Regions from separate parts of the Homo sapiens genome. Here region 2 is linked to region 1. Evidence: fine-mapped expression QTL. A gene starts in region 1. The other region holds a variant in brackets. All regions are shown on one strand. Distances are between the middles of the regions. Region 1 holds the start of DHX8 (DEAH-box helicase 8). Region 2 overlaps ETV4 (ETS variant transcription factor 4).

Region 1 (15,110 bases):
TCACTGCTGTTATCCAGGTACTTAGAACAGTGTTTGGCATACAGTAAGTACTCAATAAATATTTATTAAAATGAAATTTAAAAATCAAAATGCTTTAAAAATTAGACCTTTAACAAGTAACAGAGCAAAAAAAAAAAATCTAATTTCACACCTTAGGCATCTGTTCCAGAACCTTATTTCATATTCCTAATCACTACTTCCCCAAATTCCCAATCTCATTTCCCTTGAATATCATTCTCAGAACCCCTTAACAAATTCAATACATAGTACATGCTCAGGGAGTGATCAAACACTTTCATTCTTAAAAATAAGTTACAACAAAGGCAAACTTAAAATTAATAAAATTACTATGAGACAAAGAAAAGGGGTTGAGAATATATATTTATAGTAGACACTCTTAAAATGGTATCAGTACCCGAACAGAAGGGTTGTCCGGTTGGCAAAGGACTGGGAAGAGTTCCTTCAGCTTTTCTTTTTCTGTTTTAGGTTTAACAACTGGATCTTGTTTCATTAAAGAGCATGAAGGGGTTAAAAAAAGAGATATATATTTAATATTATTAATGATTAACAAAATAACTTCAACAATAGATTTGTATCAAACTGAAACAGAACATGGCATTTTGCTATATATTAATCATACCTGTTACTATAAATGTAATTTAATTTTCTAAATACATTGATCACAAACTATCTCGAAATGTAGCAGAAAGAGGAGTGTAGCAATACTCATTGGGTTATGTCTTATCTTTTTTATTTTGTCTTAAGTCGTTTGAAATTTTTTTTCCCCTTGAAACGGGGAAAAAAACCTCTGTCACTCAGGCTAAAGTACATTGGTGCAACTATGGCTCACTGCAGCTTCACCCTTTTGGACTCAAGCAACACTCCTTCCTTAGCCTCCCAAGTAGCTGGAACTACGGAGGCACGCCATCATGCCTGGCTAATTTTTTTATTTTTTTGTAGAGATGAGGTCTCTCTATGTTGCCCAGGCTGGTCTAAAACTCCTGGGCTCAAGTGATACTCCCACCTTGGCCTCCCAAAGTGCTGGGATTCCAGCAGTGAGCCGCTAGGCCCAGCCCATTTGAAAAATCTTACTGGAACATTTACTTGCTCAGCAACTGCTGAGAGGAAAACAAATGCAATTTACAGGATGTTCAAAACCTACACCATTCTAGAAGCTAAGCTCAGCTGGAAGCTCTGCTTACCTTTGCTAGTGGAAGGCTTCGCTGGAGGCCGCATGGTTTGTATGAGACGCAGCAAGTTACTAATAAGAGAATCCTTTGAAAAGAAACATAGAACGAAAATTGTCAGCTCCCATATCAGTGCTTAAATACACTTAAAAGGCAAAGAATGTCCTGTAGGGAAGGGTGGTTACGCACTTGAATTTAGCTAATTGGAATACATGAAACATAGTGTGTCAACCTGGTGTAGCATGAACCTAGTATAATAGCTTCAGAGAAAGCCGATATTTAGGACTCTTTGGGGAGAAAAGTTATTAGGCTCCCTGCAACCATTTTATTTCCCAAGGTTTAGAACTACCCCCAAAACTTGTTTCCAACTTCCTGACTCACAGAACAAGAATGTAAATACCTACAAAGACTTAATGATGAAAATCCTGCCCTGTTTTCCTAGAGGTATCACAGAAAATCTGGTTAAATCATCACTACTTAATGGCATGAAAACATTACACACTTAATGGCTTATTTAATTGATATGTATAAAATTGTCTCCTTCCTATATCAAAATCCTATATTAAACCCTATCAAAATTTAAAATCAATAGTGACATTAAAACATAAATTATGTAATCCCAGCACTTTGGAAGGCCGAGGCGGGTGGATCACGAGGTCAGGAGATCGAGACCATCCTGGCTAACACGGTGAAACCCCATCTCTACTAAAAATACAAAAAATTAGCCGGGCATGGTGGCAGGCACCTGTAGTCCCAGCTACTTGGGAGACTGAGGCAAGAGAATGGCGTGAACCCGGGAGGCGGAGCTTGCAGTGAGCTGAGGTGGCGCCACTGCACTCCAGCCCAGGCGACAGAGCAAAACTCTGTCTCAAAAAAAAAAACAAACAAACAAACATAAATTAAAACATTAATATCTACAGATTATCTTCTCCACATATACATACCGTAAATTCTGCACCATTTTTGACGAGAGAAGCCTTAAAAGTATCAAAGGTGGTATTTTTCTCAGCAAGACTGATCACAAATTCAGCTGCAAATAAGAAACAGAATTCAGAAAAGAAGAGACATGAACAAGAAATCAGTTTCAAGTATGGTGAAAACAAAACTAATTAGGTTATCCAACAGTAATAAAAAACAAAGACCACCATCTGGTAAGGGTAAAGAGAGAAAATCTGGCCAGGTGTGGTGGCTCATGCCTGTAATCCCAACACTCTGGGAGGCCAAGGCAGGCGGATCACTTGAGGTTAGGAGTTCAAGATGAGCCTGGCTAACACAGTGAAACCCCGTCTCTATTAAAAATACAAAAATTAGCTGGGTGTGGTGGCAGGCACCTGTAATCCCAGCTACTTGGGAGACTGAGGCAGGAGAATCACTTGAACCCGGGAGGCAGAGGTTGCAGTAAGCCGGCATTGCGCCACTGCACTCCAGCCTGGGCAACAGAGTGAGACTCCGTCTCAAAAAAAAACAAAAAAAACAAAACAAGAAAACAAGAGAGAAAATCTAGACTGCTGAAATTATCCACACATATTCTAGAGAATTTATACAAATGAAAGGAAGATATTACTACAAAATGGCTCAATGTAGCCCTTGAGTGCATTTAAACTAGGAAGACCTATTTGACCCACATCATGGTACCCTCTTCTCACAAAACCACTACCTGGGCACGCTGCCACCTAGACTAGACTGTAAAGGTGACAATAAAAAGCATGAGCCCATGTAGACACACAGAGGCACACAACAGAAGGACAGACCCAATCTGTATATGAGGGCCAGGCAGCTGCTGGGTGGTGCAATCTCCACATTGATGAAAGACTTTTTTGCCAAATTTTTCTCCACAAACCTGCCTAGTTCTTCTTTTTTTTTTTTTTAAGACAGAGTCTGGCTCTGTCGCCCAGGCTGGAGTGCAGCGGTGCGATATCGGCTCACTGCAACCTCCACCTCCCGGGTTCACGCCATTCTCCTGCCTCAGCCTCCCGAGTAGCTGGGACTACAGGCGCCCACCACCACGCCTGGCTAATTTTTTGTATTTTTAGCAGAGACAGGGTTTCACCATGTTAGCCAGGATGGTCTTGATCTCCTGACCTTGTGATCCACCCGCCTCAGCTTCCCAAAGTGCTGGGATTACAGGCATAAGCCACTGTGCCCGGCACACCTGCCTAGTTCTTGAAACTTTCTTTTTTTCTTTTTTTTTTCTTTTTTTTGAGACGGAGTCTCGCTCTGTCGCCCAGGCTGGAGTGCAGTGGCGGGATCTTGGCTCACTGCCACCTCTGCCCCCTGAGTTTAAGCGATTCTTCTGCCTCAGCCTCCCAAGTAGCTGGGGCTACAGGCGCATGCCACCATGACCGGCTAATTTTTATATTTTTAGTACAGACAGGATTTCACCATATTGGCCAGGCTGGTCTCGAACCCACGACCTTGTGATTTGCCTGCCTCGGCCTCCCAAAGTTCTGGGATTACAGTCATGAGCCACCGCACCTGGACTTTTTTTATTTTTTCATTTTTTTTTAACAGTCTCACTCTGTCTCTCAGGCTGGAGTACAGTGGTACGATCTTGGCTCATTGCAACCTCCGCCTCTCGGGTTCAAGCAATTCTCTTGTCTCAGCCTCCTAAGTAGCTGGGATTACAGGTGCCCTCCACCACGCCTGGCTAATTTTTGTAGTTTTAGTAGAGACGGGGTTTTGCCACATTGGCCAGGCTGGTCTTGAACTCCTGACCTCAGGTAATCCTACTGCCTCAGCCTCCCGAAGTGCTGGGATTACAGGCATGAGCCACTGTGCCCGGCCTAGTTCTTGAAACTTCTAATATTAGAGCTATTTATTAAGCTACTTTCAGACAGTGGCTCACGCCTGTAATGCCAGCACTTTGGGAGGTTGTGGTGGGCAGATTGCTCGAGCCCAGGAGTTAAAGACCAGCCTGGGCAACATGGCAAAACACCATCTCTACAAAAAATACAAAAATCAGCCGGGGGTGGTGGTATGCATCTGTAGTCCTAGCTACTCGGGAGTAGACTGAGATAATAAGCCTCATACTATGAGACCCACAAAAAAACTGTAATGCTTTCATTTGAATGCTAATCCTAGAAAAGTAAATGAATAAATAACATGAAAGATCTAGATGACTAACTCATAAAGTAGTACTACCATACAATTTCCATCCTGGAATGTGCCTTTATCTTTCTGATAAAGTGAAAGCCAAATGCCATCAGGCTACACGAACACATCTTATGCATAATAAGTTAGTAACGATAATGTCAATGGTTAATACTTTTTGAACATTACTACGTGCCAGGCACTATGCTAAGTGCTTTTTATGGGTTACTTCATGATCCCCAAAACAACCCTCATAAGTAGGTGCTATTATTGTCATGTTTTACAATGAGGAAGCTGACGGTTTGAGACACTGACCTACCCAATAATAACTGGGGGGAGCTAGGAATAAAACCCAGGCAATCTAACTTCAGAGGCTACATTCTTTCAAGAAATGTGGAGGGAGAACTAAGTCCCATGGTGCTAGGCATGTCATGCTCAAAAGAGCCCCTCCCAAAGCAGTCTGAAGCACATTCTCACTGCCAGCCATCAGTAATCTTTTTTTTTTTTTTTTTTGAGACGGAGTCTTGCTCTGTCACTAAGGCTGGAGGGCAGTGGCACGATCCTCTCACTGCAACCTCCCCATCCCAGGTTCAAGTGATTCTCCTGCCTCAGCCTCCTGAGTAGCTAGGATTACAGGCGTGCACCACCACGCCCTGCTAATTTTTGTATTTTTAGTAAGACAGGGTTTCACCATGTTGGTCAGGCTGGTCTCGAACTCCTGACCTCGTGATCCACCCGCCTTGGCCTCCCAAAGTGCTGGGATTACATGTGTGAGCCACTGCGCCTGGTCCCATTAATCAGTATTTTTAATTTTCACAATTATACAGGGGAATTGTTAAATTAACTGAATCCATTATAAAAAATTAATTTATAGTTTAAAAAAATTCATTGGTGAAAACAGTAAAAATAACACTAATTTAAATGATAATCCAGTATTACAGTTCTTTTAGAATTTGTCTAGCAGGTTTTCCAGTTTTCATCGGAAACTCTACTATCTCAACTCTCCCAAAAATTAAATACATAAATTAATAAGTCATCCATCAGGGTCAAAAGCAAAAGAATCAAGTCAGCAAACAAAACATAAAAGAAGCAAATATATGCCTTTCTGTTATTAAACCCAACTCTGCCAATTTAGTTTCAACAAAAGACACTGTCTATTGCATTAAACCAATATTAGTACTTTTTTTTTTTTTTTTTGAAATAAAGTCTTGCTCTTTTCGTCCAGGCTGGAGTGCAGTGATGTGATTTCAGCTCACTGAAACCTCCGTCTCCTGAGTTCAAGCGATTCTCCTGCCTCAGCCTCCTGCATAGCACCAGTCACCATGGCCAGCTAATTTTTGTATTTTTTTTTTTTAGTAGAAATGGCGTTTCGCCATGTTGGCCAGGCTGGTCTCAAACTCCTGACCTCAGGGGATCGGCCTGTCTTGGCCTTCCAAAGTGCTGGGATTACAGGCGTGAGCCACCAAACCCAGCCAATGTTAGTACTTTTAATGTTACTGGTTTTATAATTCTGTATGTAACAGAAAAAGCATATTTGTGGGTTTTCTGCAAATTAATTGAGATCTTTAGCTATAAATAAACTAAAAGATTATGAAGTTTATACTTCGCTCTATTTTTGTACACAAATGAAGTTAACATCAAAACAATTAAACACTGGGGGTTAATGTCAATAACTTTTTTGTTTCTTCTAAAAGGCCAAGGTATTAGGAGTTAAAATGAAAACAGAGAGAAAGGTAAGCTCCCTGAAAGCAGAAATCTGTCTTGTTCTCTGTGGTATGCCTAGCCCCCAGCTCAATATTTGCTGAATAAAGGAAACATATTAACGAGATAGCAAAACCGACGAAATTATCACCTCATTATCAACTAAAAGAGAAGAATCCTGCGGGAAAAGTTATATAGGACAGACACATCTTGGCTGGGAGGCAAGAGAAAAAAGTAAACTAAAATATACTGGCTGCAGGGCATCTTCCTAAATGCTATATGGTGACCCTGTGAAGACATCGTCCCACTTCACAGATGAGAAAAACAGCTTCAGAGAAACTATGAATCTTACCAAAGGTCACTCGTCTAACTTCCCTAACCCCTCCTGTCACCTGCCCCTTCCCTTCCATCCCTCCGGTTGATGACTTTATCTTCATTTAGGAAACTGAAGAGTGGGCTGGAACTCTCTCACTCATCTTCCCACCACCAATCTCTAAACTCATCTGAATCTGCAACTGTATTCTCTGTCCTCGCTCCTGTTACAACTGAAGAAGCCTTGCTGTACGTACCAAAGGTCAATCCATCCATTGGTTGCCCTTGATCCCATCCATCCTCTGTACCTTCATAAAGGCTCCATCTGTCTATGGCTTTAGCTTTAGGACCCTAGCCTTTTCTAATTCCTCAGTTTCGGCTCCCCAGATGTAGTTTGCCCCAAAACATCTAGTGACTGGTGTTTAAGACATAGTACAGGACGCAATGGCTCACGCCTGTAATCCCAACACTTTGGGAGGCCGAGGGAAGAGGACTGCTTGAGCCCAGAAGTTCGAGACCAGCCTGGGCAATACAGTGAGACCCCCGTCTCTACAAAAAATTTAAAAATGAGTCGAGCTTGGTGGCGCCCGCCTGTAGTCCCAGCTACTCGGGAGGCTGAGGTGGGAGGACTGCTTGAGCCCAGGAGGTGGAGGCTGCAGTGAGCCGAGATCGTGCCACTGCACTCCAGCCCGGGAAACAGAGCGAGGCCCTGCCTCAAAAAAGAGTACAGGATGAACGGTCAAAGAACACAGTTAAAAGCACAGACGCTAACTACTATGTCACAGAGTGGCGTGAAGACCAAATAAAATAATGTCAATAAAGAGCTGAGCATCGCATCTAGCACATAGTGAGCACCCAATAAACGTCAGCCATCATCGTCGTCATCGCAGCATCTGCTGCTGTTGTTGTTAAACATGTTTAATTGAGGCTGAAAAAACAAACAAAAAACAATCAAGCAGAGATGACCGCCCCGGGCTTCACTGACAGCTCTGGGAAAGTTTCTAAAGTTTCTCGAGGGCTCTCAAGCCGAGGCCACGGCAGCGTGTACCCTGGGCACCGGTGTCTGCGACAGAGAGAGACAGATTCACACGAACATACTTTCGGTCCATCAACCACCTTTCTCCTTCCTCCTTCCTCCTTCCGCTTCCCTCAATCCCAAACTGAGGTCCCAGGGACCTCCCCGAGCTCACCAAGGTCCTTGTCGTTGATCCCCAAGTGATTGTCCAGCTCAGTGCAAACCTTTGACACCAAAGACAGGTACTCGAGTTTGGCAAGTTCTTCCGCGGGGCCTGGCTCCGACCCGATTAAGGCTCCCGCCATGGCTACAGCCACAGCCATGGCTATAGCTTGCCCAGAACCTCCTTCCTCACAGCCGGCGCTCAGAGCTACTCCGGCCGGGTTCCAGCTTTCACTTCCGGGTCAGCGCGCGTCCCCTTTGTTTACGGTAAATTGAAAATTTGAGGAACGAATCAAGTCCCAACAGGATGGATCATAGAGATCAAACAGGAAGTGCTTAAGGAAGGGACAACTAGAGTGGGTTACTCTGCACGCCGATCTGCGCCCTCTACAGGCGAGAAAAATCTCCGCCCGCCCTCAGGCCTGGAAACGTTCACTCAGCGCGCTCCCGCCCTGGGTCGGCAGAGGGCGACCCCGGCCTGCACAAGAGGCGCCGGGAGGCAACCGCAAAACAGCCTGCGCCTGCGCTTTAGAACACTTGAAAAAGGAATCTTAATGCACGTCTGGAAAAAGACAAACTTGCTTTACTGTGGATCCGCAAATTCCCGGCCTCACTTCTTTGTGGTTCCTGTCGTCCGATCTCAAGTGACCCTTGACAAGCCAGTAGGCAGTAGATTGCCTTCTCTTGTTTTACACACGAAGAAACTGGCACTTCCACTGCCAGCTGGCTGCTTGGGCAAATCAATCTCTGGGGCCTTAGTTTTCTCATCTGTAAACTAGAATAATGTTGCTCTACCCTAAATGGAATAACTGCAAGGAGTGTGACACAGAGTAGGCACACCGCAAATGACAGTTACTGTTAATATCACAAGGCTAGGCCGGGTGCAGTGGCTCACGCCTGTAATGCCAGCACTTTGGGAGGCCGAGGCTGGTGGATCACTTGAGGTCAGGAGTTCCAGACCAGCCTGGCCAACGTGGCGAAACTCCATCTCTACTAAAAATAGAAAACTTAGCCGGGCGTGGTGGTGGTGGGCGCCTGTAGTCCCAGCTACTCGGGAGGCTGAGGCACAAGAATCGCTTGAACCCAGGAGGCAGAGGTTGGAGTGACCTGAGTTCACACCACTACACTCCAGCATGGGCGACAGAGTGAGACTTTGTCTCAAAAAAAAAAAAAAAAAAATTCAAGGCTGAGATGATGGTCACAGAACTGGCCTCTGGTCTGTCAAGCACAGATCCCCTTAGTCTGGGAACCCACAGAGCCAGCTGCCTCCACTCTTGTGAAAACCTGCTTTTCAATCCCCAGTTTTCCTGTGTCCTCTCAGAACTTATTCCCCCAGGGGCTGGGCACTGTGGCTCACCCCTGTAATCCCAGCACTTTGGGAGGCCGAGACGGGCGGATCACTTGAGGTCAGGAGTTCAAGACCACTCTGGCCAACATGGTGAAACCTCGTCTGTACTAAAAATACAAAAATTAGCTGGGCGTGATGGTATGTGCCTGTAGTCCCAGCTACTAGGGAGGCTGAGGCGGGAGAATTGCTTGAACCTGGGAGGTGGATGTTGCAGTGAGCTGAGATCTCGCCACTGCACTCTAGCCTGTGCGACAGAGTGAGACTCCGTCTCAAACAAACAAAACACACACACAAAAACAACAACAAACCTTATTCCCCCAAATATCAGCTGTGCTGTAAGTCCAAGGTCATAAGCTCAGGTCTCCCAACTTCTGCTTCAGGTCTTTTTTACCTTTGTGGCAACCTTAATGTGGGATGGGGATTTTTCCCACACTCCAGTGCTCTGTGTGATGAGTAAGGAAACAGAAGCACCCTAAAGTGAATGGCTCTCCAATCAATCGGAAGGAGGAAATCAGTCTCCCACTTTTCACTTTGGCAACATTTTTACACTGGTGTACCTTTGGACTCTGTTTCTTCAACATCTCATCATGGACTGAAAAATGACAGGCAGAGAAAAACCCAGCCATTGTTCTCACTGTCTCCAGAAGCTCCAGGTTTCCAGGTTCCTAAGGAATCACTACTAAACCCTCTGAGTTCTTCCTACCCCTCCCCATTTCGCTTCCTCTTTCTCCCCATGAATAGAATGGAAAACTCTGCACTTGATCCAATGTGCTCAATTTGCCAGCTTGGAGTTACGATTTCAAGGGCTTATTCTATCTGATGTTCATTCTCTGTGCTTCTTTCTCTTTAAAAATTAATATTACTATTCTGCTTTCCTCCAATATTTAACCGGAAGGAGGAACAGATAGGGAGTTTGTTTTGTTTTCAAAGCTCTGTCAGAATAGGGGCTATGGAACCATAACATGTAGCAGCAGTAGTAGCAATAAATACTAGAATTAATAAATACTAAATGTTAGAATTGTTTGGGAATTATTGAACATATATATCAATAGTAAATATTAACAGCAAAACATTACATTTTATTTAGATATGCCATTAACTGCACATTTTAAGAAGTGACAGTTTTTCTGCAATATACATATTTCTTGCAACACCAAAAATTTCTTTGAAGCCAAAGGAAAACAAATAGTTATGTAGATACAGATAACTTGACAGCCCAAACACAGATGCACATGGAATCCTCCTACTCTTCCTCCCCATAAGAGACCGTGAATCGAACGCAGTGCAAAAGTAAATGTTTCCGAACTGTCCTCTGGATAGAATATTTTTCAACATAATATCAGATATAATTAATTTTCATTATTAGGTCGGGTGCAGTGGCTCACACCTGTAATCCCAGCACTTTGGGAGGCTGAAGCAGGCAGATCGCCTGAGGTCAGGAGTTCGAGACCAGCCCGGCCAACATGGTGAAACCCCGACTCTACTAAAACTACAAAAATTAGTCGGGCGTGGTGGCATACACTTGTAGTCCCAGCTATTCGGGAGGCTGAGTCAGGAGAATTGCTTGAACCCAGGAGGCGGAGGTTGCAGTGAGCCAAGATCACGCCAATGTACTCTAGCCTGGGCGACAGTGATACTCTGTTTCAAAAAATAAAATAATAATAATAAATTTCCATTATTATTGTATGACTTTCCTTGGACAGCCTCCATGTGGCCCTTTAATAGCCCAGTAAATAATTTACCTCTACATATAACTTATGCTCATACTACCCATATCACCACTCATGATGGATAAGAAATTATTTCCTGATACCAAACTTGTAGTAACAGGGATGTTACTTTTCTGCCTGTTCCTAGACTTATAGATGTGTTTAACCCTACCCCCGATTTCCATGTTATTTCTGCTCTGTCCCAGAGACTGGTCCCAGCTGCTGGAATTTGGGAAAGAACTTGGGGGTTGGGATGAGGTAGAAAGCAGAGAGAAAGTACTGAACCTCTTAGCAACATCAGGTTGAGTTGGTAAGGGAGAAGAAATTATCTAAGTACGTGTAGCTGAAAGACAGCATCCTTAGGGAAGTTTGTGAGAAAAATCATAGGGCTTTCTGTCAAAACAGTGTTGCCACAACCCAGACAACCCTGGCCTTTTCTGCTGGGGTAAAATGGATCTTAGGGGAGACATCTCTGCTCTAGGAGGCAAAATCAGAATGGTTTGCTTCTAAGCATATGACTACCACTCAACTGTTACTGTCATTCATGCAGGGAGACTTCAGAAAGAGTGGCCCCTTCTTCCCTGCTCCACTTGGGCCCTGACCCAACCAGAGAGCCTGGGAGCCCCCAGAGAAAGTAAAATTCCTTATTTTTCACTGTTTGACTTTTCCCCAGAATTCATCTCCAAATTTGGACCAACTTATTAAATTTGTATTAAACTTCAACCTTGTGACCAGGCACTGTGGCAGGTTCTAAAAAGGATAGGAGGTCTGAAAGTGGAAAAACATCAAGGAAGAACTAGAATACTCTGAATGCCATTCTCAGCCAAGGGGTCTCCTGGCAGAGCTGTGTTTATAACTTAGATCTCTGCTGCCTAAACATGAGGGCAGGTGATTGGAAGACAGAAAAAAAAAAAAAAAAGCTGGTCTGTTTACCGTCATCTGAGGGCAGGCAGATTGGGGTTGGAGGGCAAGTCTACTTCACAGGGCAGTTTATCCTGTTGCAATCTGTTATTTGTTTGCCTTATTTTCTAATACCCAAGCGCAGCCTCATTTTTGCGCAAAACATTCCTGACCTACAGTTCCCTCTCTTTTTAGGCCATCAACCTGCCATCAGCAATAACAGATGCTTTAGATTCTAAATTCTCCAAGGCTTTATAGTATTAGGCAAAAAAAAAAAAAAAAAAATGTTCTTCCTAAGCAGATTTTTTTTTTGGTATAGTCAAGTTTCCCATTTCTCTTGCATTTTAAGACTCTTCAAAATGTCAGGCAAAAACAAACACAAAGCCAGGCACCCAGACACCATTATGATATGAACTTGTCAAGAAAATGGTATTCCCCCATCTCGGCCTCTCCACCTTCTGTGGAAATGGCAAGGAATTTTTTCATATTTATTTATCAGTTTTTCATCTTTTTTCTTTTTTTCTTTTTTCTTTTCTTTTTTTTTTTTTTTTTTTTTTTTTTTTTTGAGATGGTGTCTTGCTCTGTTGCCCAGGCTAGAGTGCAGTGGCACAATCTCGGCTCACTGCAAGCTCTGCATCCCGGGTTCACACCATTCTCCTGCCTCAGCCTCCTGAGTAGCTGGGACTACAGGCGCCTGCCACCACGCCCAGCTAACTTTTTGTATTTTTAGTAGAGACGGGGTTTCCCGTGTTAGCCAGGATGGTCTCGATCTCCTGACCTCGTGATCTGCCCGCCTCAGACTCCCAAAGTGCTGGGATTACAGCCATGAGCCACTGCGCCAGTTACTCATCTTTTAAGCGACCTTGATTCAGGATCTAGTTGGTATTTTTTAGACTTAGTTTAGGTTGATTTTATTTAAAAAGAAAAACACTGGGCTGGGCACGGTGGCTCACCCCTATAATCCCAGCACTTTAGGAGGCCAGGGCAGGCAGATCACCTGAGGTCAGGAGTTCGAGACCAACCTGGCCAACATGGTGAAACCAAGTCTCTACTTTAAAAATACCAAAATTAGCCAGGCATGATGGTGGGCGCCTGGAATCCCAGCTACTCGGGAGGCTGAGGTAGGAGAATCGCTGGAACCTGAGAGGTGGAGTTTGCAGTGAGCCGAGATCGTGCCATTGCACTCCAGCCTGGGCGACAGAATGAGACTCTGTCTCAAAAAAAAAAAAAAAAAAAATGGCCAGGCATGGTGGCTCACACCTGCAATCCCAGCACTTTGGGAGGCCAAAGTGGGAGGATTGCTTGGGGCCAGGAGTTGGAGACCAGCCTCGACAATAAAGCAAGGCTCCATCTCTATTAAAAATAATAAAGAACAAGAAAACAATTTTAATCCATATTATAAGTATGAATGACAAAGTGACAAGTTACACTGGGCTTTTTCTGTTTTCCCCCTCCCTAATGATATTTAGCCTCTGCTCCAGGGTACTAGGGATTTTTGTAGTATCTGGTTTCTATTTGAGGTAATTTCTTCAGAAATTAATAAGGATTTCCTCAGGAGAAATGCAAAAACAAAAACCAAGACAAACCAAGGAATGAGTTGATGGGAAAAGATGAGAGAAGAGGAACTGAAGTTCTGAAGTTCTGTTGATGTTCTGTTTGCAAGTCAAACATGTCAACAGCTGGGCAGTGTGGGCTGTGCAGTGAGCCGAGGGCCAAAGCTCTGTCTTAAGCCACAGGCTTGCCACTAACACAGAAGAAACTGCTCCTCCAGGATCTCCATTTCTCCCAAGTAAAGGATAATGGGCTCCGAGCACACCCTCCACCCCAAATCTAAGAGTGTCCTGGCAGAACCAGCCATATGCAACTCTTTCCCCAGCTCTCAGGTAGAACAGCTTTGGCGGTACAAATAGCTGCTGCCCTTGTGCCAGAATAGCAAGTCCCTTCGTCTTGGGATTACAGTAATTATGGTGATTTATGCCTCCAGAGTGAAAATTAGCAATCTGGTGAGGTAACTAAAAATGAATGCATCTCTTCCCAGAGTTCACTCCACCCAGCTGAGCCACCGAATAAAACCAGCATATGGGGCAATTAGAGAGCCAAGTGCTGCTTTCAAAATGCAGTATAAAGAGACAGAGTTCAGGGGCCCAGGTTCCCCTGCCTGGTTCAATAATGATCACAAGTTCCTAACAAGCGTCCTCTTTGCCTCACAATACCATGCCAAGTCTGAGTCCTCCCGTAAACACCAACCTGCAGTTGTGTCTTTCAAGCAAAGTAATTTGTTCCACGACATCACCACTTTACCTTTTTTAAATTATTATTATTGCAAATTGACTGAGGGAGGGGAAAGGGGGAAGTGAGGATAAACCTCTATTACATGGATACGTGTGAAGCAAAGGTTTTTTTTTCCTTCTTAGCCATACATTTGCTTTTATGTGACACAGACTCTGATCTTACCTAACTTCCACAGTCTACTATCAAATACTGGTGACAGTAGAATTTATATTAAAAGTTTTGCTGGGCATGGTGGCTCATGCCTGTAATTCCAGCACTTTGTTTTATTTATTTATTTATTTAGAGACAGAGTCTCGCTCTGTCCCAGGCTAGAGTGCAGTGGCACCACCATGGCTCACTGCAACCTCAACCTCCTGGGCTCAAGCAATCCTCCTCCCTCAGACTCCTGAGTAGCTGGGACTACAGACATGTGCCATCATGCCCAGCTAATTTTTGTAATTTTTGTAGAGGTGGAGTCCGTGTTGCTCAGGCTGGTCTCAAACTCCTGGGCTTAAGGGATCCAACCACCTTGGCCTCCCAAGGTGGTGGGATTACGGATATGAACCACCACACCCAGCCATTCTTAGTACTTTGGGAGGCTGAGGCAGGAGGATCCCCCGAGGCCAGGAGTTCAAGACCAGCTTGGTCAACATAGTAAGAACCCCCGTCTCTACAAAAAATTTAAAAATTAGCTGGGCATGTAGCTCATGTCTGTAGTCCCAGCTATTTAGGAGGCTGAGGCCGGAGAATTGGTTGAGCCCAGGAGTTTGAGGCCGCAGTGAGCTATGATGTCACCACTGCACTCCAGCCTGGGTGATAGAGTGAGATCCTGTCTCAAAAAAAACAAAATTTTTTTTTGAAAGACATATAGGTCCAATAGTGATTGATTATCCTTATCATTGAGCACATGCAGAAATTCCTAAAATAGTCCAAGTCTATCCCCATGGACTTGGACTTGATGGGACTTCATATGTAACAAGGATAGATTGGGGTCACACTGTCAGCCACTTGGAAATTTGGATGTAAGTGCAGTATTCACTCATTCATATTTCTCATAGAGTTTTAGAGTTGAAAGGGGTTTAAGAGGTAATATAATCAAACCCACACATTAGATTCTATCATTATTTAAAGTGGCTTGACTTCTAAATCTCATTCTGTGAAATTCCCTCTGACCCAACTTATTCTTTTTCTTTTCTTTTTATTTTTCCTACCTCAGGTTTATTTGAGGACCCCAGCCCCGTGCAGATGGCAGCCCGGGGGGTATCGCACCAATCCTTCTGTACTCACGTTGGCAGACAGAGATACCTACTCTGAAGCCTTTGTAGGGGCCTGGGCACCTTTGGGAGCCTGAGCTGGAACTGAAGCTGGAGCTGCAGCCTGGGCCTTGGTTTGATCCTTGGCCTTGGCCTTTGGCC
Region 2 (15,110 bases), 46 kb before region 1:
CTGACCTGGTGATCTGCCCGCCTCAGCCTCCCAAAGTGCTGGGATTACAGGCGTGAGCCACCGCGCCCGGCCTAATTTTTGTATTTTTAGTAGAGACAGGATTTCACCATGCTGGTCAGGCTGGTCTCAAACTCCTGACCTCGTGATCCGCCCACCACGGCCTCCCAAAGTGCTGGGATTACAGGCATGAGCCACCATGCCCGGCCTTTATTTTTCATTTTTTGGAACAGAGTCTCACTTTGTCACCCAGGCTGGAGTGCAGTGGCATGATCTCAGCTGACTGCAACCTCTGCCTCCTGGGTTCAAGCAATTCTCCTGCCTCAGCCTTCCGAGTAGCTGGGATTACAGGTGCCCACCGCCACGCCTGACTAATTTTTTAATTTTTTAGTAGAGATGGGAGTTTCACTTTGTTGGCCAGGCTGGTCTCAAACTCCTGATCTCAAGTGATCCTCCCACCTCAGCCTCCCAAAGTGCTGGGATTACAGGCATGAACCACTGCGCCCAGCCACCCCCCTATGTGATTTTATTTATTATTTAATTTTATTTTTCTTTTGAGATGGAGTTTCACTCTTGTTGCCCAGGCTGGAGTGCAGTGGTGCGATCTCAGCTCACTGCAACCTCTGCCTCCCAGGTTCAAGCGATTCTTCTGTCTCAGCTCCTGAGTAGCTGGGATTATAGGCTCCCGCCAACACGACCAGCTAAGTTTTGTACTTTTAGTAAAGATGGGGTTTCGTCATGTTGGCCAGGCTGGTCTCGAACTCCGGACCTCAGGTGATCCACCCGCCTTGACTTCCCAAAGTGCTGGGATTATAGGCGTGAGCCACCATGCCTGGCCGCCTCCTATGTGATTTTTAAATCCACAGGATCCCACTGCTTATAATGCCTGCCCATCCTAGATATGACTGTTGTGAGCTTTAAGGGAGTTTTGTAAACTCTGAGGGGCGAGGCTGTTTCACTTCAGAAAAATGGAGGAAATAAAGACAAAGCATCTAGAAGAAGAAAGACTGGAATCTGCTCAGACAGGTTCTGAGAACAGTCTTCCCTCCTGGGTCTTAGTGGAGCCCAGAGGTGGAAGACACTAGGACCTAGGGTGGAGCAGCCTTTAGTCTCAAGCAAGCTTGTCCAACCCGTGGGCCTGTGGGCCACTTTCAGCCCAGGGTAGCTTTGAATGCGGCCCAGGCCCAACATAAATTCCTTGTAAAATTTCTTAAAACATTATGAGATTTGTTTGTGATTTTAAGTTCATCAGCTATCGTTAGTGTTAGTGTATTTGTGTATTTTATGTGTGGCCCAAGACAATTCTTACAATGTGGACACCCCTGATCTAAAGGCTGTTGGTCCTTTCTTGGCTGTTGCTAATCTGCAGGGCTGTAATAATGGAGCCTCCCAGGGGACAACCAGGGCTCCGCCCCAAACTCACCTCTGACTTCTCTCTGCAGCTCAGGTACCAGACAGTGATGAGCAGTTTGTTCCTGATTTCCATTCAGAAAACCGTGAGTAGAGGTCCCTGGGGAGAGGGTATAGGGAGTGGAGGATGGCAGGAAGTGAGTCATAGGATAGAGAATCACAAGAGAGCAGCTTGTTCTCTCCTAAAACACAGTGGGGTTTGATCTTAAAGACCAAGGCAATAACTGGAATGAAAACCTTGGTTGAAATCTGGGGCTTGACATGTTCTTGCTGTGTGACCTTAGAGCAGACACTATCCCTCTGGTTCTCCATTGCCTTATATCTGAAGTGAGGGGCCTGGGCCAGTTCAGCAGAGTCCAGTTCTAGTGTTGTTTGTTTGTTTGTTTGTTTGTTTTCCCCCCAAGACAGAGTCTTGCTCTGTCACCCAGGCTGGAGTGCAGTGGCACAATCTCGGCTCACTGCAACTTCCGCCTCCCGGGTTTAAGCCATTCTCCTGCCTCAGCTTCCAGAGTAGCTGGGATTACAGGCATGCACAACCACACCCAGCTAATTTTTGTATTTTTAGTAGAGATGGGGTTTCACCATGTTGGCCAGGATGGTCTCGAATTCCTGACCTTGTGATCCGCCCACCTCGGCCTCCCATAGTGTTGGGACTACAGGCGTGAGCCCAGTGCGCCCGCCCCCAGTTCTAGTATTCTAAGTCACTTCCATAAACTGGGGACAATTTTGCCTCCCAAGAGACATTTGGTAATATCTGTAGACATTTTTGGTTGTCACAGTTGAGGGTGGGGTGCTACTGGTGTCTAGTGGATAGAGAGGCCAGGGATACTGCTAAAAGCATCCTATGATGCTCAGGACCGCTCCTTACAATATTATTAATAAAACACTATCTGGCCCACAGGTCAGTAGTGCCACTGTTGAGAAACCCTGCTTTAGGCTGGGTGTGGTGGCTCACGCCTGTAATCCCAGCACTTTGGGAGGCTGAGGCGCGTGGATCACATGAGGTCAGGAGTTTGAGACCAACCTGGCCAACATGATGAAATTCCGTCTTTACTAAAATACAAAAATTAGCCGGGCATGGTGGCGTGTACCTGTAATCCCAGCTACTCAGGAGGCTGAGGCATGAGAATCGCTTGAACCTGGGAGGCGGAGGTTGCAGTGAGGCAAGATTGAGCCACTGCACTCCAGCCTGGGTGACAGAGCGAGGCTCCATCTCAAAAAAAACAAAAACCAAAAAACAAACCCTGCTTTAATGTCAGATACTTTGCTGTCAACTGTCTTCACCAGTGAAACAATGGGGCACAAAGAATCAAAAACAGCAGAGAATAGTTGGTTACAAACGGCATTTGACTGGACTGCGGTTAAAACTGAATCTCACACCGGCTTGGAACCAACTCTTTGCTGCTCAGCCTCGTGGCCAGAGTTTGGGAACCCCGCAGGGGCCACAGGAAAGGCCAGTGTTCTTCACAGATAAGTAGGAGCATGTGTATAATGTTAGTCAGCTGACATTCAAGTGGGCCAATATCCAACCTCAACCAGAAAAAGAAAGATTCTTTTATTTATTTATTTAGAGACAGAGTTTCACTCTTGTTGCCCAGGCTGGAGTGCAATGGTGTGATCTCGGCTCACTGCAACCGCTGCCTCCCAGGTTCAAGCAATTCTCCTGCCTCAGCCTCCCGAGTAGCTGGGATTAAAGGGATGTGCCACCACGCCCGGCTAATTTTTTTGTATTTTAGTAGAGATGGGGTTTCTCTATGTTGGTCAGGCTGGTCTTGAACTTCTGACTTCAGGTGATCCGCCCGCCTCGGCCTCCCAAAGTGCTGGGATTACAGGCGTGAGCCACCGCGCCCGGCCAAGAAAGATTCTTTATATCCTCAAATAAGAAAACATGTCACTCCCCTGGAATTTTCCAGGGCACTCAGGAAAACTACAGGCCCTAGGTTGGAGGTGCTCACTCCTTGAAAGTGTTTTCTGGGGCCTGGGGTTGCATTAAATGTTTTTGTTTTTTGTTTCTTTTTGAGACGGAGTCTCGCTCTGTCACCCAGGCTGGAGTGCAGTGGCATGATCTCGGCTCACTGCAATCCCCGCCTCCTGGGTTCAAGCAATTCCCTTGCCCCAGCCTCCTGAGTAGCTGGGACTACAGGCATCCGCCACCATCCCCGGCTAATTTTTTTTTGTATTTTTAGTAGAGACAGGGTTTCACCATGTTGGCCAGGCTGGTCTTGGACTCCTGCCTCCCAAAGTGCTGGGATTACAGGTGTGAGCTACCGTGCCCAGCCTAAATGTTGAACTTTAGATGGTTTATTTAGTCAATAATCAGACACTAGTCTGATGTATAAACTAGACATAATGTAAATAGCCAAAATGTTCTTGTCTCACTGCGGGTCTCAGAAAATTGATACCCAGAGAGGGAAGGAGGCTGTACCAGTCACCCAGCTGGTCCTCAAAGCTCAGAAGGTATCAGAAGCCCTGCCTGCCTCTTGTGTGACAGGCTCTGGCCTTGCTCTGTCCCCTCCACCCCCACAGTAGCTTTCCACAGCCCCACCACCAGGATCAAGAAGGAGCCCCAGAGTCCCCGCACAGACCCGGCCCTGTCCTGCAGCAGGAAGCCGCCACTCCCCTACCACCATGGCGAGCAGTGCCTTTACTCCAGGTGAGCCCCAGCCTGGACCTGGTGAAGGGTAGGAGAAGGGTTCCAGAGGAGGGAGGCAGGGGGCACCCATGAGCAGAGGCAGCAGCTGAGATGCAAGTTAGACAACAGAAAGGATTTTCTAGCACTTGTAAGGAAGCAATACAGCTAAGGATTTCCTCTGAATAGACGGAAAACGCAGCAGAGGGCCTCAGGAATATATACTGAGGCCAGAGCAGATTCTGTTTCCACCAAGAGGCCCACTGTCCCACCTAAACCATTGCTCTGAGCAACAAATCCCCCCTGTATGAATCCCAGGGGTTCAAGACTAGCCTGGGCAACAGAGGGAGACTGTCTCTGAAAAAGAAAAGAATTGGCTAGGGCTGAGTCTGTGGCTCCTGCCGTTCCCTTCTCAGCCCCCTCTATCCTTCCTTCTCCTGTAATCCCTGTGACCTCGCTTTCCTAGGAATGAAGGGTTCAAAGATGCTTTCCAGCTTCTCTGCCCCCTCACCCCTGTCTCCTTCTCAACTCCAGTGCCTATGACCCCCCCAGACAAATCGCCATCAAGTCCCCTGCCCCTGGTGCCCTTGGACAGTCGCCCCTACAGCCCTTTCCCCGGGCAGAGCAACGGAATTTCCTGAGATCCTCTGGCACCTCCCAGCCCCACCCTGGCCATGGGTACCTCGGGGAACATAGGTAAGGAGACAGGGAAACCCACTGCTCATGGGCCCAGGTGTTTTTTCAATTCCTGAGTGTTCTCCATAAAGACTTGAGCTGTGGGGTGGTAGAGGCAGGGGGCAGTGGAATAGAAAGGGAGAAATACTGACACCCCAACCCCCTACCCCCCATTCCGGAGCCCACTCTAAAAGCCTAGGAGTAACAGGCTCGAGGAAGGATTAATTTAAAGTTCTCTTCTCTTCCTTCTCCATCCAACCACATCCAGCTCCGTCTTCCAGCAGCCCCTGGACATTTGCCACTCCTTCACATCTCAGGGAGGGGGCCGGGAACCCCTCCCAGCCCCCTACCAACACCAGCTGTCGGAGCCCTGCCCACCCTATCCCCAGCAGAGCTTTAAGCAAGAATACCATGATCCCCTGTATGAACAGGCGGGCCAGCCAGCCGTGGACCAGGGTGGGGTCAATGGGCACAGGTACCCAGGGGCGGGGGTGGTGATCAAACAGGAACAGACGGACTTCGCCTACGACTCAGGTAAGAGACTGGGGTGGGGCAGGGTGGCATGTGATCAAGTGTTCAGTTAAGCCCAGAATGTCTCCCGAGTTTTTTTACATTGCTGTTTACCATTTCATACATCCAACCCACCCACCCACTTTTTTTCTTCATAATTTCAAAAGAATGTTATTTTTCTTTCTTTTTCTTTTTTTTTTTGAAATGGGGTCCTGCTCTGGCCCAGGCTAGAGTGCAGTGGCACGATCTCTGCTCACTGCAACCTCTGCCTACCGGGTTCAAGCGATTCTTGTGCCTCAGCCTCCCGAGTACCTGGGATTACAGGCACCAGCCACCGTGCCCGGCTAATTTTTGTATTTTTAGTAGAGATGGGGTTTCGCCATGCTGGCCAGGATGGTCTCGAACTCCTGACTTCATATGATCCATCGCCTCGGCCTCCCAAAGTGCTGTGATTATAGACATGAGCCACCTCACCCGGACAAATTATTACTTTTCAATGAGCAAACCTATATTCAGATTAAAAGATAAGGGGGGCCCCCGGGGCATGGTGAGTCATCTGTAATCCCAGCACTTTAGGAGGCCATGGCAGGAGGATCGTTTGAGCCCAGGAATTAGTTCAAGGCCAGCTTAGGCAACAAAGTGAGACCTCGTGTCTATTTATAAAAAAGTAAAATTAAAATAAAGGGGGATGTAGATCCTGCCCTCAGGTAGCTTGTGACTTAATAGGGAAGTTAAGGCATTTATTTCTATTTAACAGGTGTTTGAGGTTTTAATTACCTATTAAGACCAAACTACTGTGACAGGAACACGAGTGTGCAGAGTTGGGAAATACAAAGATGAATAGGATGTGTCTGGTCCCTATCCCCACAGAGGCTTAAAAATACAAAGGGATTTGAATGAAGAGAAACATGAATTTGAAACTAGCCAGGCTCATGGTTCTTGCTAGTTCTCAATAGGAGGGCAGGGTTTTCTTGTTTTGTTTTGTTTTGTTTGTTTTGAGACAGAGTCTTGCTCTGTTTGTTTGTTTTGAGATGGAGTCTTGCTCTCTCGCCCAGGCTGGAGTGCCACTGGGTTCAAGCGATTCTCATGCTTCAGCCTCCCGAATAGCTGGGGTTACAGGTGCCCATCACCATGCCCAGCTAGTTTTTGTATTTTTAGTAGAGACGGGGTTTCACCATGTTGATCAAGCTGGTAGAAGCACAGGTTAATATGTGGCTTACATATTTGAGCCTCCCAATTGATGTATGCCCTGGCCAGAGGCAAGGGCAGAGGAAGTAGGGACTTCTTTAAATTCTAGTTCCACCTGGCTGTTGACTGGAGTGAGATGCACTCACCTGTGTTCATAAATAGCTATAGTTCAAAGCCTCAAGGGCCGAAGGAGGGCCAGTCCCAGGAAGGGTCCAGAAAACCCTGCCTTTTCTTCTTTCCTCCTGGCTTTTGTTACATTAGTAGCCCTAGATCTGAGTTTATTAGAGTAGGCCCAGAGCTAGCTAGAACTTTAGAATTTCCCTTTTTGTGGTGCCCACAACCGTTCAAGGGCAGGGGGATGAACCACAACCCCCCAGGCTGTCCAACTAAGAACCGGATGGTGCTCCTGTCCTCAAATCCAGGGCATAAGCCTGAGCCAGGCTTGGCAGTGAGCTGGGGAGAGGAGGAGGGAGGCACTCTTGCCGCTGACCTTCAAAGGCTGTAGACCGGAGGGGATTGTGTTACATGCCCTTGAACTCCTGCCCCTCCCCCCAGCTACTCCTGAATGGAGTCAGGAATTCCATTCACAAAATGGAGGCATGAATGAGCCCACCCTCCCGCCTCCTCCCGGAGGTGTCATGTTTCACCATCTTCTCATTCATAGGTGGGAGTGCAGTGGGGGGAGGGCGGGAAGGGGTTGGAACTTGAACGGGTGGCTTCACACAGCCGCCTTCCCGATGTGGAGTGGGAAGGTTCCTATCCTATGGAATGGAATGAAACGAAGTGGAATGTGCTCTGTTAGACCTGAAAAAACAAGGCCCAGTGCCCACTGCCTCTTCCCCAGGTGCATGCAGGCGCACGCTCTGTTTCTGTCACACACACACACACACACACACACACGCGCGCGTGCACAGGGCTGGGAACCTGACCTGCTGACCGGACATTTTTGTCCATTCTGAGGGAGTCTTAGGCGTGGACACCGAACTCTTTCCCCGGACGTTCATCTCACCCTCCCTCCTCCCCCTGAACTCGCAGGAAACAGCTGCTCCCTGGCAGCTTGGGCCCTTCAGAACAGCTTGCCCAGCCCCCGCTGCTGCCTTCCATGGCCTCAGCCGCAGCCCTCAAGTTGAGGAGGGGTTCCAGCATCACACTCCCTCTGGGTGAACTTTCCCTGGGATTTTGTGGTTGGCAGGCAACCTGGGCAAAGAACAGTCACCAGGAAGCAGGCTGGAAGGAAGAAATTCTTGAATGTGGATAGGACTTCCTCCTCCCCTGCCCTCGAGCTCCACCCCAAGCCACTTCTCACATCACCCCTTCTTCCCCCACAGATGTCACCGGGTGCGCATCAATGTACCTCCACACAGAGGGCTTCTCTGGGCCCTCTCCAGGTGACGGGGCCATGGGTAAGGCAGCCCCCCTTCCCCTGCCAAGCCCTCCATGTTGGGGGAGGGAGCGCTGCCATGGGGGAGGGTCTCCCTGGCCAGGAGTCCCTCTGGACTCTCTGGGGTCTCATCGGTGAACCCCCAGATCTGAGCAACCCCCAATTTCCTCCACAAGGCTATGGCTATGAGAAACCTCTGCGACCATTCCCAGATGATGTCTGCGTTGTCCCTGAGAAATTTGAAGGTCAGAGAAGTGACTGTTGATGGGAGGGTCAAGGTCTTATCACGCTGTGTCCCTGCAGGAGTCACATCACGTTTCATTGTTGCAAGAGGGTGGGACCCATAGAAAAGTACCTGGGGAGACCCCTTCGAGAAATCCCTCGGGTGGGAGGCGGTTGCTTGGGGGACCAAAAGACACAAACCCCACACCTCCTATTTTCGTGTTCCCCAGGAGACATCAAGCAGGAAGGGGTCGGTGCATTTCGAGAGGGGCCGCCCTACCAGCGCCGGGGTGCCCTGCAGCTGTGGCAATTTCTGGTGGCCTTGCTGGATGACCCAACAAATGCCCATTTCATTGCCTGGACGGGCCGGGGAATGGAGTTCAAGCTCATTGAGCCTGAGGAGGTGGGCCTCTCGGATGTTCCCAGCCCTCCTTTCCAAAGTTTACAGCCTGGAGGTGGGAGAACCTGGGAAATGGTGGCACGTGCCTCCATCATGATTCTTGCTTTACCTAACCTGAATTCTTGCCAAGCCTAAGTCTGTGGGCTGATGCTTTGTTGCAGAG[C/T]TAGCTTGGCACTTTGCACCAAGAATCTCAAGTGCTCTTTCTGACCTTACCCCCATTTTTTCCTCTGCCAAGGTAGCATCTCTACCCCAAAACTGTTTTGTTCCCAGGTCGCCAGGCTCTGGGGCATCCAGAAGAACCGGCCAGCCATGAATTACGACAAGCTGAGCCGCTCGCTCCGATACTATTATGAGAAAGGCATCATGCAGAAGGTGGGGGCTGTGGGTCTAGGGACAAGGTGGTGGGGGGCAGTGGCTGTGAGAAGCTGACTGGGGAGAGGGTCAGCAGGGCAGTTCTCAGCAACTTTGTAGGATCAGATAATGAATCAGTCAGAGAGACAAGAAATTGTGGAGAATCCCAAGGTTCTCCTCCCCCAAAAAAGTGCAACACTGTAACTGAGAAGCCCAAGCATGGAGAAGTTGAGATGAAAAAGGAGTAAGAACTGTGAAGGGAGAGTCAGCTTCTCAGGAACCAGCATGGGAGAGAAATGCCCCGAGCATCTGCCTGTACTGGTAGAAGGGCCACATTCCCCACTCCCCCACCTTACCCCATACAAAGGCTGGGCGGCTAGCCAGGCTGACCAGACCTTCTCTCTCCCCATAGGTGGCTGGTGAGCGTTACGTGTACAAGTTTGTGTGTGAGCCCGAGGCCCTCTTCTCTTTGGCCTTCCCGGACAATCAGCGTCCAGCTCTCAAGGCTGAGTTTGACCGGCCTGTCAGTGAGGAGGACACAGTCCCTTTGTCCCACTTGGATGAGAGCCCCGCCTACCTCCCAGAGCTGGCTGGCCCCGCCCAGCCATTTGGCCCCAAGGGTGGCTACTCTTACTAGCCCCCAGCGGCTGTTCCCCCTGCCGCAGGTGGGTGCTGCCCTGTGTACATATAAATGAATCTGGTGTTGGGGAAACCTTCATCTGAAACCCACAGATGTCTCTGGGGCAGATCCCCACTGTCCTACCAGTTGCCCTAGCCCAGACTCTGAGCTGCTCACCGGAGTCATTGGGAAGGAAAAGTGGAGAAATGGCAAGTCTAGAGTCTCAGAAACTCCCCTGGGGGTTTCACCTGGGCCCTGGAGGAATTCAGCTCAGCTTCTTCCTAGGTCCAAGCCCCCCACACCTTTTCCCCAACCACAGAGAACAAGAGTTTGTTCTGTTCTGGGGGACAGAGAAGGCGCTTCCCAACTTCATACTGGCAGGAGGGTGAGGAGGTTCACTGAGCTCCCCAGATCTCCCACTGCGGGGAGACAGAAGCCTGGACTCTGCCCCACGCTGTGGCCCTGGAGGGTCCCGGTTTGTCAGTTCTTGGTGCTCTGTGTTCCCAGAGGCAGGCGGAGGTTGAAGAAAGGAACCTGGGATGAGGGGTGCTGGGTATAAGCAGAGAGGGATGGGTTCCTGCTCCAAGGGACCCTTTGCCTTTCTTCTGCCCTTTCCTAGGCCCAGGCCTGGGTTTGTACTTCCACCTCCACCACATCTGCCAGACCTTAATAAAGGCCCCCACTTCTCCCATTAGTTCTCCTGTGTCCTCTTTGCTGCCATGTGGGAACAGACCTGGGGGTAGAAAGAGCTCTGGTCTTGAAGCAGAGCTGACTGGTTTGGGGCCAGGCCCTGGCGCTTAAATCCTCATGTAGATTTGAAAAAAGGCAGTTCACCTGACTGTTTCTCTTCTGAAAAATGGGCTTAATGATACCTGCCCTTCCCCCTTCCCAGCATTACTGTGTGAGGATCCAGAAATAATGGACAGGGGGTACTTGATAACCTGGACAGGCGCCCCTTGTGCACTTTGGGCCTGCTTCCAGCAGCAGTCTCCCTGCCCCTGTGGGCGGGTCAGGTGGGCTACTGAGTGGCAAGGGTCTCCCTCCTGGGACTTCCTCAGACAGGGTTTTGGTCTTTGGTTTCTGTGATCCCAGTTGTTCCCATGACCCTGCTGTCCCACATAGACCCCAATTGCATGTCCTCCCTCCTACCTCAGCTCTAGGTTGCTACTTTTGCTGGGGTTGGGGACAAGTGTTTGTCTGGAGAATGGGGCAAAGGAGAAAGGCTCCCAGGCCAGATGGTACAGAGAGAGGCTAGAGCAGGCCCTGGATTCTGGCCAGTGGAGATTAGATCTTCCGGGGAGTGGGAAACACCTAGATTCTCCTTGCCCAAATTTGGGAGAGATCAGAGTCCTGAGGCTGAGTTTTTTGGGGGTAGGTAGAAATGGCAAAGTGGACAACATGGTGACACCTATGGAGGACGTATGACTGAGATGTGACAACAGGTGGGAGGGGCAGAATGGGTGGTTCTAGAGCCAGCTGCTATGTAAACCGCTGCCCAGGAGACATGCTCAGGTAAAAACCGGTGCTCTCCTGTTAAATAGAAACTGCAGCTGTGCTGAGGTTGGGCCAGCCCAACTCTGTTCATGTCTCAGGTTGGCCCAGCACCAACCTGAGACCATCCCTTGCAGGAAGGGATGCCCCTCGACTACTACCCACAAATAAAAGGCAACATTACTTCTTCCTAGAAACACAAAATATCAATGTACTGACATAATTTAGTGCAAGAAACAAAATTTTAAAAACAGGTTTTAAAAATATATAATTTAATTCCACATTAAAGCCAAGCTATCGTGGTGGGAAGAAGGTGTAAAAATCGGTGGAAACCCTGAAGGCCGAGTACACACACGAAGAGAGAGGGAGTTAGCTGAGAAGCAGCATCCAGGGAAAGAAAGGTCTCCACAAGCTGAGATGATGGCCCTCTGCCCTCTGAACTGTTCATTAACAAGTCACCAGTCCCAGTTCTTTGTTCAAATCCTCAAACTTGGAGAGGCACTGCTCCAATGAGACAGCTACAGCAACCACAGGGAGGAAGTGCTTTGGGCTGCAGGAGAGACAGTCAAAGCCAAATCACGTCCAGGCGGGATGAAGTAAACCTGGACCGAGGAGCCTGACCCAGCTGCGGAGCTCACACATGCCCCATAGGGACGGTCCTGCCATATACACAAACAGCACACTCAGCATGTGTGCAGAGGCAGGCAACTCCTGAGCTTGGTTCTCGCGGGGTGGGGGTGAACAATATACTTTAATGGCCAAGAAGATCCCAGCTCTCTGCATGAGACCCACATCCTCTCCTGGGCTGTCACTCAATCTTGGGAAATACTGGTTCAAGGAAGAGAAACAAGGGCTCCATTGTGTGAGAGCAGCAGGCAAGCTCCCCTTCTGCATCTGGACAGGACCCCCCCCTTCTCCCTCAGAGCAGGCTCAGCTCAGCTGCTGACATTGCTTTCCTGATGGTCAAAAGGTCAGAACCCAGCTATGTTGTCATAGCAGAGAAGTGACCTCAGCTCTAGCGTAGAGAGATGGTCAAGGAACACCCACAGAATGGGGATCCTTCTTTTTCCTCCACCTGAGCCAGAAAAGATAACGAACCCTGCTGTCTCTTATCCTTAGCCCATTCAACATCCCTTTTCAACCTCAGCTTGAAACCCAACCCTCCCTCCCCAGGTGTCAACATTGTCAGTGCTGGGCACTCAGTCAGGACAGGCTGGGCCACTATATCCAGGAGTGTTTCTGAATGGGGAAAATTTAGGCTGGAATTAGGACTGGGAGCCAGGTGTGGTGGCATGCACCTGTAGTCCCAGCTACTCAGGAGGCTGAGGCAGGAAGATCACTTGAGCTCAGGAGTTTGATGCCAGCCTAGGCAAGATGGCAAGATCCTGTCTTAACAAAAACAAAAACAAAACGAGATTGGGGAGGTGGGTGCCCAGTCCCCGTTTCCCCTTTGGTTTCATTTGAGGTCCCTGTACTGTCTCTCCCCAGAAGGCCTTCAAGGTTAACACACAACAATGCCCTGCCCCTTGATTACTGGCCTGGGCTTACAAAGGCGAATACTCAGACAGAATCAGGAGGCACTCAGCTTAATGAAGGGGCAGGGATCTGCAGCCAGCAGATTGCCTGGCCTATATTCCTCTCCCTCGGACTCTTTCTGAATTGTCTTTAGGGTGTGGTTTGCTGCCCAGTGACAACATACATTCCTTTATATCCTGGAATGTTACATAGTCTCTCTTAGTGTCTGGCATACAGTTCTACAGTAGTTCTAGCATTTACATCACTTCAGAACTTACTAATAACATAAGGACAGGAGAAGCAGCAACGTAACAGGATGTGCCCAATCTCTCAGAAGCTTCTCTACAAGCACTACATCCAGACCAGCTTTCCGTAAGTTCCGAAACCTGGCCTGGCAAGACCTGCCTGATGTTCCGCCAGGTAAGGAGCCTCCTCAGTGCAGAGGACAGTGGCTCTCAACTGTAATCCCAGCGCTTTGGGAGGCAGAGGCAGGAGGATTGCTTGACGCCAGGGATTGGAGAGCAGCCTGGGCAGCACAGTGGGAACCCATCTCTATGGGAAGAAAAAAAAAAAACCCTCCTCAGGAGCTGTGAGGAGGGCACAAGGAGGTGGCTATTCTCCAAGCAAGTGCTAGGAAAAAACCACTAAGAACAAGCCCTGCAGCACAGATACTGGCAGCACAAACCAGCTGAGAGGAGAGGTGTTATGTTTGTTTTCTGTTTGGAGTGGGGAAAGGGAGGTTTTGACCATAAAATCCCTTTGTTAAAGTCCATCCAGGACCTCAGGGGAAAAAAATAAAAACAAAATAAAATAAAAGCTGTGTTGTTACTTAGTATGTTTCAAAAGGAAATGGGACATGCTGCACATTGCGAATGTGGGAGGTGGAGGGAGCAAGGGGAAACCTTCTGTATTTAATATGTGCCATCTGTAGCCACTCAGGCCTCCAGACTGAAGTGCTCTGTGGAGAGGACATGGTTGATCATCGGGTGATCCCCCAGCACGGCCCGGCTAGTGCTGATGCTGAAAGACAAGGCTGGAAGTCTGGGTTGTACGTCGTTTCCGAGCGCAAAGAGGCCCTGCGTTCTGGTTTCAGGGGATTCAGGGGATTCTCATCATGTGTGCCAGAGCACAGATACTAAATCTCCCTCACCCTGAGCCCAGGCCAATATCCTAACCTTTCGGCTAAAAGAAAACAGTCACAGAAAACCATTTTTGTTTCCTTAAGAAAATAAATATTTCCACGAGGTCAAGCCAAAGTACAGGGGCTGGAGACGGGGTGGGAAGTGGGGCAAACACTTTAGATGAGCACAGTAGCTCCTGCTAGCTGGGGCATCAGGGCACTCACCATGTCCCTGCACAAGATGCTCACCCACTCCACCTTCCCATCCTGGAGCTGCACAAATTGTCCCTTTCTTGAAGTTGATGCAATGTGTCTCTGTGTTAGATATGAGCTCCCAACTGGGCCCAAGGACTTGGGGTGATGGAGGCTGCAGGCTCTTGCCAAAGCCAGGTTTAAATCCCTGTTTCTATTTTACCAGCAGGGAAGAAATGAGAGTCGAGTTGAGAAAATGCTCAGTTAAGACAGTCAGTCACGGGACAGCTGTATCCTCAGGACCAGCCTGTCATCGATAAGTCCAAGCCCTGGCTACTGCTGCTGGAGAGGCAAAGGAACAATCTTGCCTTTCAGCGCCGTCGGAAAGCTCGAGATATTCTCCAGGCATTGGGTTCCTCATAGCGGTTGTACAAGGGTTCAAGACGCTGTTGCTTCTTCTGTTTGCTTAGCTTAGTTGGGTCTGAGACCTTGAAGAAGGCTGGGGCAAACTCCACAAGCCACCGAGGGTCGATGGTGGTAACTTCACGCATGTATTCCTTGGTGGTGAGCACCAGCTCATGGTACACCACCCTGAGGGGGGACAGAGATAGTACTCAAGCCTCTGGATATAGGCCCCACTCTACAGTCAACCTGGTCCCTAGTAGGCCTCAGCTGAGCTTACATTTTATACTATTACCTCTCCTGCCTGACACCTATAAGACTGCAGTCTGTTTATGACAGCCACACCCCAATACTGAAGCACCCGCACACCTCTAACCACAAGAAAGGTCTCAGGAGAATGTATTCTAGTCCTGGCTCTGGCTCTAACTAGTTAAGTGACATGGAGCCAATCACATCCCTTCTCTAATCTGTTTCTTGCTCTATAAAATGTGAGGATGTTTATTAGAATGTTTCCACAGAATTCTAGGGCTCTGAAGAGGGGCCTCACACTGCCACAAGGGATGGAGAAGGCCAAACATGCAAGGAGCCACATTTCTAACCCTTCTACTGTGATAACATGGTGGTTTTAAATCAGTTTTATATTAGGGTTCTAGATAGAGTCCAATTTTTTAAAAATGCTACTTTAAAACAAGTTTTTTTTTTTAAACTACATCACTAGGTAGTTGTTTTTTTCTTTCTTTTTTTTTTTTTTTTTGGGACGGAGTCTCACTCTGTCTCCCAGGCTGGAGTACAATGGCACAATCTCAGCTCACTGCAACCTCTGCCTCCCGGGTTCAAGCTATTCTCATGTCTCAGCCTCCCAAGTAGCTGGGATTACAGGTGCCTGCCACCACGCCTGGCTAACTTTGTATTTTTAGTAGAGACATGGTTTCACTATGTTGGTCAGGTTGGCCTGGAATTCCTGACCTCTGGTGATCCACCTGCCTCGGCCTCCCAAAGTGCTGGGAT

Evidence for each region. PIP is the estimated chance that this variant, and not a neighbour inherited with it, causes the effect.
Region 2: its variant is fine-mapped to the expression of DHX8 in whole blood (TOPMed, PIP above 0.99). The same link has a PIP of 0.9 or more in blood mononuclear cells, lung and nasal epithelium.

What each region holds. Positions count from the first base shown.
Region 1 is chr17:43,476,556-43,491,665 of GRCh38, reverse strand. DHX8 (DEAH-box helicase 8) reads right to left here and starts at 7,691. Exons shown (of 23, transcript NM_004941.3): 1 at 7,481-7,691; 2 at 2,132-2,217; 3 at 1,203-1,275; 4 at 416-501. The coding sequence starts at 7,628. It overlaps LOC124904112 (U7 small nuclear RNA), which reads left to right and starts at 5,208; the gene lies at 5,208-5,268. It also overlaps the pseudogene RPL29P31. RefSeq lists enhancers at 7,427-7,856, 7,156-7,998.
Region 2 is chr17:43,522,809-43,537,918 of GRCh38, reverse strand. ETV4 (ETS variant transcription factor 4) reads left to right here. Exons shown (of 13, transcript NM_001079675.5): 5 at 1,440-1,493; 6 at 3,934-4,060; 7 at 4,571-4,732; 8 at 4,980-5,245; 9 at 7,738-7,812; 10 at 7,967-8,035; 11 at 8,243-8,415; 12 at 8,683-8,784; 13 at 9,176-10,073. The coding sequence ends at 9,400. It overlaps DHX8 (DEAH-box helicase 8), which reads right to left. Exons shown (of 23, transcript NM_004941.3): 23 at 12,249-14,291. The coding sequence ends at 14,072. Among named protein-coding and RNA genes, the nearest start is that of ETV4, 16 kb to the left of the region's middle. RefSeq lists an enhancer at 8,783-9,324 and a silencer at 11,784-12,078. The variant C/T (reference allele first, on the strand shown) is at 8,576.